Regions from separate parts of the Homo sapiens genome. Here region 2 is linked to region 1. Evidence: fine-mapped expression QTL. A gene starts in region 1. The other region holds a variant in brackets. All regions are shown on one strand. Distances are between the middles of the regions.

Region 1 (5,368 bases):
GAGCCAAGATCGTGCCACTGCACTCCAGCCTGGGCGAAAGAGCAAGACTCTGTCTCAAAACAAAACAAAAACTGTTAAGGTCATCAAAAACAAGGAAGTTTGAAAAACTGTCACAGCCAAGAGGAGCCAAAGGAGACATGATGTCTAAATGTAATGTTCCAGCTTGGGTTAGATTTTGGCACAGAAAAAGGACATAAGGCAAAAACTAAGAAAATCAGAATAGGCCGGGCGCGGTGGCTCACACCTGTAATTCCAACACTTTGAGAGGCCGAGGCGGGTGGATCACCTGAGGTCGGGAGTTCGAGACCAGCCTGACCAACATGGAGAAACCCTATCTCTACTAAAAATACAAAATTAGCCAGGCGTGGTGGCACATGCCTGTAATCCCAGCTACTCGGGAGGCTGAGGCAGGAGAATCTCTTGAAACCAGAAGGTGGAGGTTACAGTGAGCCGAGATCTTGCCACTGCACTCCAGCCTGGGTGAAAGAGCGACAACTCCGTCTCAAAAAAACAAAAAGAAAATCAGAATAAAGTGTGGGTTTTAGTTATTGTTAATGTATCAATATTGGCTTATTAATTGTAATAAATGAACCATATAAGGAAAGATGTTAATAATAGGAGAAACTAGGTGTAGGGTATATATGAAAACTCTCTGCACTATTTTTACAAGTTTTCTGTAAATCTAAAATTGTTCTAAAATTAATTTTTTAAAGTCAAATAATTTACCTAAATCTATACAGCTAGTAAATACTCAAAGGTATGAGACAAACTCATAAGTTGAACCCATAAGTTGAAGTTTGAAGTTGAAGTTGAAGAAGTTTAGATGACTTCAAACTCTGTGGTTTTCCCACTACCCAAAACCTTTCTTAGTTTACCCTTCTGGGATTATGTAGGCATTTGTATCACTGTCTAAATAATAAGTTCCTTATGGCCAGAGAAAATACTTTTTTCTTTCTTTTTTTTGCGCTTCCACACCACTGACGTTGAGTAAACCAGTTTAAGTTAACTACTGACAAAGTCACAGAGCCTAAAGAATCTGAGATTTGGCCGGGTGCTGTGGCTCACGCCAGTAATCCCAACACTTTGGGCAGCCGAGGCGGGCGGATCGCTTGAGGTCAGGAATTTGAGACCAGCCTGGCCAACATGGTGAAACCTGTCTCTACCAAAAATACGAAAATTAGCCCGGCCTGGTGGCGCGCGCTTGTAATCCCAGCTACTCTGAAGGCTGAGGCAGGAGAATTGCTTGAACCCAGTAGGCGGAGGTTGCAGTGAGCCGAGATCGCACCACTGCACTCCAGTTTGGGCGAAAGAGCGAGACGCCGTCTCAAAAAAAAATAAAAAAGAATGTGACTTTTGTAGAACTTGATCAAATCCAGACCCAAACGGTCCGCTCCTCGGAGAGGCCACAGATCGGCGCTGAGCTGGGCTGTCTCAGTTCTGCAAGTGTCCTGTGCTGCCATCTACCGGTGTCTGGGAAGCGTCGCCCTCCCTTATTGTATCTCCTGGGGAGAGGTTGGAGAGGGCGCCGCTTAAACTGCAGAACATATGTAACTGTCATGCAGTTCATTAGACACCTGTACAAGGGAAAGGCCTCACTTTTCTCCAGCAATTGCAGGCCCTCCTAACTCCATATCAACACTCATCTCGTAAAATTCACAGATCTCGCTGACCTGCCTCAGTAGGTACTGATCTGACTCCTACTGTCCATCCCATCCCAGAACCCACACCCGCCTGCACAGCGTAGGCTTCAGAAACTGCTCAACCTCGCAGACCTGAACCCCACCGCCCAGATTCCCTCATTTTCACAGACCCCTGAGATTCCTTGCACTACCTTGCAATCCCTACGGACCTCCCCTATTAGTGCAAATGCACGCGCCCACCCAGACATCCCTACAAAGAGGTTAGAGTTCCGGCGGCAGCTCACACCGGTGCGAAAGCAGCGAGATAGCCCCAACCCGGCTCAGAGCCCTCAGGCTGGTGGCTTTGGCCCTGGCTCCATCTCCCCACCTCTGCCCTGATCCGCTCCGCTCAGGCTAGCAGCCTGCCGGCCGAGGCCCCGCCCCTCTAGACTTGTCATCACAGAAGCCGCACGTGGCCGGGGTGGGACCTCAGGCGACCTGCGACCATCACTTTGTCTCCTCCTTCCTCCTTTGGGGCCGCCACCGCCAATCAGAGCCAGCGGATCCTGGTTGGAGTGCGACCGCCCGGGTGAGGCGTGAGGGAGAAGGGGCGGAAGGAGGAGGGGCTCTGAGATGGGAGGGGGATCGTGGTGGAAGGGTCTTGGCGCGACTTCTGCCAGGCTGGAATCCGAGGGGGCGGGTCCTGGTGAAAGGCGGAGAGACCGAGAGGAGGCGGGGATCGGGGGTGGGGCCTGGGAAAAGCTGAGGATCCTGGGGAAATGCAAAGAAAACGCGAAGGAGGTGCGAGGTCAGAAGGGGGCGGGGCCCGGGCTACAGGGGAGGAGCTCGAGAAATTAAACGAGGAAAGGGACAAGTCCACAGAAGGTGGAAGGTGGGACAAGGGAGAGGGTGGGCCCGGGCGTTGCGGGGGCGGGGCTCAGACTGAAGGGGCGAGGTTTGCAGGCGGAGGCTACAGCTAGGGCTGCTCAGTAACTGCCCCAACCACTACCACGTCCCCAAGTGCAACGGGACCCACGGAACTACAGGTGTGGGGCAGGGTGAGCGTGGAAGAAGGGACGCGGATGGGGGTGCGCTTTGCAGACGATCTGGAGACTGCTGTGTGTTGAGGGAAGATACGAAGTCGCGGGAGCAGTTGGGGACTCAATGTGTGGGCAACAAGGTGCATTCTCCAGAGGCCTCTATGGGGGAAGGGCGGGAGCGCTTTGTTGTGGGGGGGTTGCGAGGTACATTGTGAGGGGGCTGTCTCTGTCTGATGTGGGGGGTTGGAGGAGGTACATGAGGGGCAGGGGACATGGAGGTGCTTTGAAGGAAGGGGGGCTGTTTAATGGAGAAGGAGTGTAGCGGTGTCGGAGGGTCTGCGGGCACTATCTAGGGGAAGGGGTTGTAGGCCCAACTTGAGGCAGGAGAACAGAACCCCCAGTACTTTGACAAAGTAACAGTTTAGGGCATTGTAGTAACTACAGGAAGACACTTGTGTTCTGGGTTCTAAGAGCAAGGGTGTTGGGGTTAGTGGGGTGAAGAGGCCAATCTATTGCACTCCTGTCTGCTCAGCTTTTAACTCCGCCTTCTGGCCTGGGCACTCAGAGAGGAGTCAGACCCTGCTTGTCACTAGGGCTTGTGTGAATGTCTCCTCAGTCTATTTTGGATCTGTCCAGCTGAGACTGGGGTTTCTTCCCTAAGCTGAGGTCCCGGGGGACCCTTCCCCCGCTGGGTTCCTGTCAACCCCCCATCCTAGTTCCTGTTCCTCCCAGAGCCGGCCTTGGTCTCTGTCTCCCCCCTCCCCCGCCCTGCCCTTATGCTCTGGGTGTGCTCATTTCCCACTTCCTTCCTTGCCCCAGGGCCTGGCCTGGCCCTTGCCCATCTAGGAGCTGTGCCCTGCCCGGTACTTTGTTATCAATGACCAGAGACCCTGGTAACCAGCGGCAGGGCTCAGACCCCACCCCCACCACTACCACCCAGGTCTCTCGCATAGATCCCCAAGTGACTGGTAGCCACATTTAACCACTTGCCACAAACAGATTTTCCCCACCCTTATCCTTCTGGGTAGGGAACGCTAGGGCTTCTGTGGGAGGGGGGAAGTGGTGAGGAGTATTGAGGGTCTTCTGTCTGTTTTGAGAGGTGGGCCACGACTGTAAGCTGAACCCAGTAAGGGTTGTGAGGTTCCAGCCACAGCTAGGGGAGGAAGAGGGAGTGGCTCCCCACACTCCAGGCTTGGAAGCACTATCAGAACAGGCTAGGACCTAGTTCTCTTGAGGGCTCCTCTGCTTCCCTGAGGGGATTTGATGGAGTGCTAGAGTTCTTTTTGCCCCTGGGCTGGCTGGGAGAGGGTGGGAAAGGCTTGAGTTCCACACAGTGGCTAAATGAGTGTGACAGTGTTGCTAAAAGGGGCCCCAAGCCAGCCTCCTCACACAACCACCCAGGAGCTGAGAGACTGGCTGGGGAGGGGGGTGGGTCTGCTGAGGACAGACAAAGCCCTGGGGTAGGGTGGGGTAAAAAAGGGCAGGCTGAAGCCTTTTGAGGAGGAGCTGATTGCTATGGCAACACTGCTTCCCAGACAGTCTCTCAGAGAGGGCGGGCCTAGGGCAGACTCTCCAGCTTCCTCAGGACTGGGGCGGTTTGTGTGAGTGGGTGGGGCATGAAGAGAAAGGGCATCAGTTTGCTGTGCTGAGACTGGAGGATATAGCCTTTCTGCTTTGGTACAGGCAGCAGAGCATTCGAATGCCTGGAGCTATCCTCTGATATGGAGATGAGTGAACAACAGTCATTAGAATTGTAGAGCTGCAGAGGCCCTCAGCAGTCATTGTTTATACAAACACCTCATTTTACAGGTTTGGAAATTTATGGCTAAAGAGACTGTGATTCCCCAGATGTCACAGTGAAAGGGCAGAAGATAGGATCCAGATCGCCGGATTGCTGTTCACTCAGCCCAGGGCCTGTTGTTTTCTTCAGTCAATGTTTATTGAACATTGCCAGGGACTAATGTTGGCTCTGGGAATATGAGCATGAACGAAACAAAGTTGCTGCTCTCATGGAGCTTCCATTCTATTAAGGGGAGAAAGAAATTGTGGAGGGGGAGGGAGAAGTCAAGTAGTGATAACCGCTATATAAAAAAAAATAAAGCAGGATAAATTTAGGGCAGGAAGGTAAGGCCTCTTTATTTATTTATTTATTTATTTATTTATTTATTTATTTATTTATTTTTGAGACGGAGTCTCACTCACTCTGTCACCCAGGCTGGAGTGCAGTGGTGCGATCTTGGCTCACTACAACCTCCGCCTCCTGGGTTCAAGTGATTCTCCTGCCTCAGCCTCCTGAGTAGCTGGGATTACAGGTGCGCGCCACCACACTCAGCTAATTTTTGTATTTTTAGTAGAGACGGGGTTTCACCATGTTAGTCAGGCTGGTCTCGAACTCCTGAGCTTGTGATCCGCCCACTTTGGCCTCCCAAAGTGCTGGGATTACAGGCGTGAGCCACCGTACCTGGTGGTAAGTCCTCTTGGTTGTACCCTGCTGCTTTCCCAGGGTACACTGAGGCCTGGAACATCTTTGATCCTTCACCCTGAACTATTGTCCTCTGACCTTTGTAGGTAACCAAGGCCTGGCCTATGGTAGTGGCAGAAAGATAGAATAAGGTGGGGTTGCTAAGGGATTATTTTTTTCCTACAGTGTTCTACGTCTCTGTTTTCCTAGTAAGTTTTTATTAAGGCAAGTAGGCTCTTACATTGATA
Region 2 (5,368 bases), 140 kb after region 1:
GCCATAACACACGGACTGAAGAATTTGAATTTGATGAGTACTTAGGAAGGAGGGCTGGGGCTTGGAGGCCAGGCTTGGTGCTCTTGTGGCAGCCTCTGATTGCCCCAAAAGGCCTTCCATGCCAGGCCCAAGCCCTAGCCTGCTGGGGAAGGACATGTGATGAGCAGTGAGGAGAAGCAGCCACTCAAGCCGAGTCTCAGTGATAGGGAGAAGCGGAAAACTTCTTCTGTAAGGCTTTCCCAGGACCTTCTCTGCAGAGCCTCTTCTTAAGCCCCAGCCTCTTATCCTGTTTGTCAGGATGGCTGAAAGAGTCCCTGCTCAGGGCTCTGCAGATCTTTCTTGGGCTGTGGAAGGTGTCTACAGTTGAGTTGAGCTGGAATGATGAGGAAGCAGAGCCCCGTTCTCTCCTCTTCCTCCAGAGTGTGCTCTCGTCAGTCTCTGTGGTCGGTGACTTGGGTGAAGCATCTAACACAGAGGGCTGTGGCTCCTGCCAGTGTGTTTGCTCCATTCAGGCCCCCTTGGCCCTAGGCCATGAGCTACCATCTGAAAAATGGGGCCAAGAAGGCTCACCTTGATTTTTGACTACCCTGCTAAAGACTTTTGGACTCAGGTGACCTGACTGAGAGGTTCCTAGAATCCCGAGTCCCTGGGAAGGGCTGCCTCCCCCTCTTCCAGTCAGGATTCTCCAGGCTAGTTGCCTTTTCTGTCACCAGGAATTGGAATTTAAATAAATAAAGGGCTGAATTTCAGTGGTGATGTTTAACTCTTTTCCCAACTCAGTACAGCCGAGGTACATAATGCACACCTACTAGTAACAGCAGCTGACTGCAGAAGGGATTTTTGGTGGAGAAAGCGGGGCCCATTAGGATCTCCAGGAGCTCTAGGCAGGCATGCGAGTCTGACATGCCCCCTTCCTAAGAATCACTTGGCCAGAGACTTATCTATTGGAAATTAGAACTGGCCTGCCTATAGAAGGGGTGAGTAGAGACCCCCTCCTCTATACCAGGGGCTTCACAAAGGGACTTTGGTCCTTTCTCAACCAAAAAGAACCAGGCTTCTGAAGGCATGGACAGCTGGGCAGCATGTGCACATGTATATAAGTGTGGTGGCAGGTCCCGTCTATGATGTGGGGCAGGGGCGGTCCAGGAGAGGATGCTGCCACAGCTCCCAGGGCTTCTCCTTGTGGCAATGCATTCACTGCCTCTATTGTGAGGGGAATGGTGATTTCAGTGCCTTAAAGCTTAGTGACAAGTTAAGACGCTGGCAGTGTCCCAACCCCATGAGTCTCTGTGCCAGAGGTTGGTGGGGGAAGGGAGAAAGGAAAGGAGGGAGAGGATGTCACTGTCCTCAAACCGAGCTTCTCTGCTCCATGCTATCCTGGGGGCTTCAGGTGAATGGCTGCGCTGTTGGGGCGAGCAGCCAGGATGTAGAGGACATTCTCTTGCAGGAAGGTAGGCCAGTCCACAAATCTGGAGTGGAAGCAAAGAACAGAGTCGTGAGGCTGGTTTGAAGACACGTGAGCCCTGATCCCAGGGGCAGCATGGCTTGAGGAGGCTGGTTTGAAGACGCGTGAGCCCTGATCCCAGGGGCAGCATGGCTTGAGCTACACAAAACTCAGGGAAGCTTGGCTCATGCCTGACCTGGCTATGGCTGGCTGTGCTACCAGGCCAACAGACCAGCTGGCTGGTCCTATAGACTTGGGTCAAATGTGCACTCTTGGAGCCTGGTTTCTTGGGTGGGCGCTTGCTGTTTTGGAGTGGGAGTGGGTAATGCCCTCTCTTACTTGTGTGTTTTGTGGGGGTTCAGAGGGTACAAATGGCCAGGTGAGGAGGTCCTACTCACCTGGACTCCTGCTCTGTGGGCAGCAGGGTCTTGTCCTGACTCTTGCTGCTGCTGCTGGCTGGGCTGCTATCTGCGATGGGACCCACATGGCTGATGCTGCTGGGCATGAGGACACGTGGTTAGGAGTGGGATAGTGAAATGCCTGCCCCCTCCCAAACTCTGGTAAGCCCAAGGCTCTGGACATGCTCATCCAGGCTCTTCTGACATGTGGCAACACCGAGTTGAAGGCAGAGGCTGTCCTATGCCCTGGCCCGTAGGCATCACCATCCTCTACCTAATGCACAG[G/A]AGGCTCCTCTCTCGGCTGTTGGCAGGGGGAGCAGGGAGGTATGGAAGGGCCACTGGCATGGAAAAGGGAGGAGGAGAGGCTGAGTGGGGACCAGGACTGGTAAGGAGCAGACCTGACACTGCAGGAAGGAGCCTCTGGGAACCGTTTGCAAAACCAAGAGTGCTGGGCCCGGCGGCACTCTGCCTCACTGACGGTGCTCCCACTGCCCCGAGCCAGGAAGGCGGCTCGGGCTCGCTCCCGCTCCTTCACTGTCAGAAGCCTCAACAGAGAGTTCTGGGGAAGAAGAGACAAGATCTTAGAGGTGAAGATATCTTGTAAACTGCCAAGCCATAGAGAATCCTATCTCCATTACCACCTTTGCAACCTCCCTTAGAAGCTGCCCAGAGCCCTTCTGGAGGCATCAGCACTTCCAGTGCGGCCCAGGGCAGATCAGTCTTCCTCACGCAGTTTCCTCAGCCTGGGCACCAGATCATCTGTCACTGGATGGAACCTGAGCCCATTCCTGATACTTGTCCCTGCTTGAGCAGGACCCAGTGCTCCCCCAATCTGCCCAGCGTGCCTCCCAGGCCCTTGTCACCCAGTATCCCAGGAACATTTGCCCCAACTGGCCCTCACCTGGGGACGCAACTGCTGCAGAAGCAGGAGGGACTCATGGGACAAGAAGTCAGGCCACTCTATGTGGCCTCGATGTTCAGGGTCCAGGGCAGCAAACTGGCGGGCCGCCTGCTCTTCTTGCTCCTCACTCAGGGCCCTGTCACGGTCCCCCCGCTTGGCTGCTTGGTGGCGGTAACGCAGAAAGTCCTCCAGTGTCAGGGAGCAATCTGTGGGAGGCACCCCGTGCTAGCCATGCCCATCCTTCCTCAGCCTCAGGGCACCTCCATCACCTCCAGGGCACCCTCGGGGCCCCCAAACCCACAGCTCTTGCTAAGTCTCTGCCTCCCATGGCCAGGGTCACCCAGGCTGTGACAGGGATAGGTGACTCTGCTGGCCAACAACTCAGGAACAAGGACTCATTTACCCTCTACCCACTAAATATGGAACACTCCTTTCATGGTTCATTCTAGAAAGCCTGAAGGAGAAATCTGCCCGGCCCCTCTCCATCCATGCAGCACCACCCAACCTTACCAGGGATGACTTTACACCGCTGAAAGGTCTCCGTGAGGCTATACATTTCCTCCTCAGTAAGCAGCAAGTTGATGTTGTCCTGAAAATAAGGAAGAGCTGAGTCGGTGGCCATACAGGCCAGTAAGAAAGGCCAGGGTCAAGGGGGCTAGAAATAGAATTTCAACTGGAAAGCAGTTCCAAGATCATCTAATCCCAGCCTCCTATTCACAATCAATGAGATTGAGGCCCCAGAGAGGAGAAAGGACTTGGCCAGAGTTGTCTTTACTCTGGGGCAGAATCTTCCCCAAGAACCCAGATATCCTGACTCCAGCACTGAGTCCCTTTACTAAAACAGTGGTTTTCTCCTCTGAGCTAACCTAGGGATTTCTTGGAAGTGCCTTAGGAAGCTGCTGCAGGGAATAAGGGGGCTAGTGAGTAGGCAGGTTGTGAATCCCTATCTCCATCAAGCAGAGCGGCTCCATCTCCATCCCTTTTATCTACTTGGCTTCTGTGTTAGGCTGTGCTAAAAATGTATTTTAGTTAAAAAAAAAAAAAGTTTAATCCTAGCTCTGCTCCAAGTGGGTTGTATCACTTTAAATAACCCCAGAATGGTTTTAAAAGATGCCATTATTACAAGGCTCCTAAAGCCAAATGAGTTTTTTTGTAGTGCCACAGAAGTTTTAATTCCAAAGGAGCACCAATATCTTATTGTGTTGACGTTACCATACAGTCTTTAAACTATCAAAGATCCTTTCTAGTACAAGGTCATTTTCTTCCTCTGAGATACCCGCAAAGTACAAGAGCAGATATTTCATGAGTATTCATACGTGGATTTCATAAAGAACTCAAACCATTCTTTTTCTTCCATAACACTTTTTAAAAACTAATATATAATAGTTGTATTTTTCTTTCAAACCATACTTTCAATAAACACCTACTGAGCACCTAGTAAACACTGGGCGCCACAGTGGTGTGTAACACTGTGAGATGTTCAGTGTGGCTGAGGTTTGGAGTACATGTGAGTGTGTGTGTGAGGGAAGGAGGGGGCCTACTATGAAGTACCTCCAATACCCTTTATCGAGCCCCTCAAATTAGGCCTTTATTCTGAGGGCAAAAGGGAGCCACCAAAGGGTTTTCAAGTGGGGAGTGCCGTGGTCAGATCTCTGGCTGCTGTGTGGAAGATGGATTAGAGCGGCAGAGTCTGGAGGTGTGGAGAGCAGTTGGGGGCTGCCGCAACAGTCCAGGCAAGAAATGATGAGCAGCTAAACTGAGACATGAGAATGAAGAAGGGAAGAGAGATATTAGAGGCAGCATCATCAGGACCTGATGACTCACTGGATGTGAGGCATGAGGGAGAGATTGAACTGGAATTGGTAACTGGGGCATGGTATTACTATTCACAGAGATAAGGAGTGGAGGAAGAGCAGGTTTGGGGGCAAAGATGAGTTCATTTTGGGGCATGATGAGTGTGAAGTACTTGTGAGATATCAAGGTGGATAAGTGCAAGAGACAGGAAATTTAGGTCTGGACACACAGAAATAGGAGTCATTAGTGTTTAGATGGTGGCTGTAGATGAAGTCACCAAAGAGGGCGCAGTGAGAAAAGAAGAGTATTAAACAACAGAACCCTGAGAAACAGGACTGAGACAAGAAACTAACAAAGGGCATTGAGAAAGAATGGTCAGAGACTAAGGCTGGAAGAGCATCAGTAGAGAAGAAGGTACTGGATACCAAGCAAAGACAGCTGCAGAATGTGGGAGGTAATGTTAACGGTGGTTACACCACTGAGGTGGGATTTTATTGACTTTCTATTTTCTCTCATTTCCATATCTTATGCAATAATTCTCATAAAAATACTTAAATCCTAAAGAAAAGAGAGAGGAATAAAGAAGTAATAAATACTTCAGAGAGATCAAGTAAGAAGATGCCTCAGAAAAGGTCAGTGGACTTGACAATTAGGAGGTGACTGGTGACCTTAGGAAGCAACAGTTCTGCAGAATGATGGATGCAGATGTCAGATTATATGATAGGTGGTTGAAAAACCATAGGAGATGGTGAAATTCTTTTAAGAAGTTTGGCTGTGGGGCCAGGTGCAATGGCTTGTGCCTGTAGTCCCAGCTACTGAGGAAGCTGAGGC

The links. PIP is the estimated chance that this variant, and not a neighbour inherited with it, causes the effect.
Region 2: its variant is the best candidate, but not a certain one, in a credible set for the expression of ATOSB in whole blood (TOPMed, PIP 0.53).

Annotation. Positions count from the first base shown.
Region 1 is chr9:35,113,102-35,118,469 of GRCh38, reverse strand. ATOSB (atos homolog B) reads left to right here and starts at 2,608. Exons shown (of 9, transcript NM_025182.4): 1 at 2,608-2,665. RefSeq lists a silencer at 2,404-2,463 and an enhancer at 3,797-4,626.
Region 2 is chr9:34,974,116-34,979,483 of GRCh38, reverse strand. It overlaps PHF24 (PHD finger protein 24), which reads right to left. Exons shown (of 8, transcript NM_015297.3): 4 at 3,254-3,332; 5 at 2,744-2,949; 6 at 2,241-2,401; 7 at 1,843-1,938; 8 at 1-1,469. The coding sequence ends at 1,373. Among named protein-coding and RNA genes, the nearest start is that of DNAJB5-DT, 13 kb to the left of the region's middle. The variant G/A (reference allele first, on the strand shown) is at 2,128.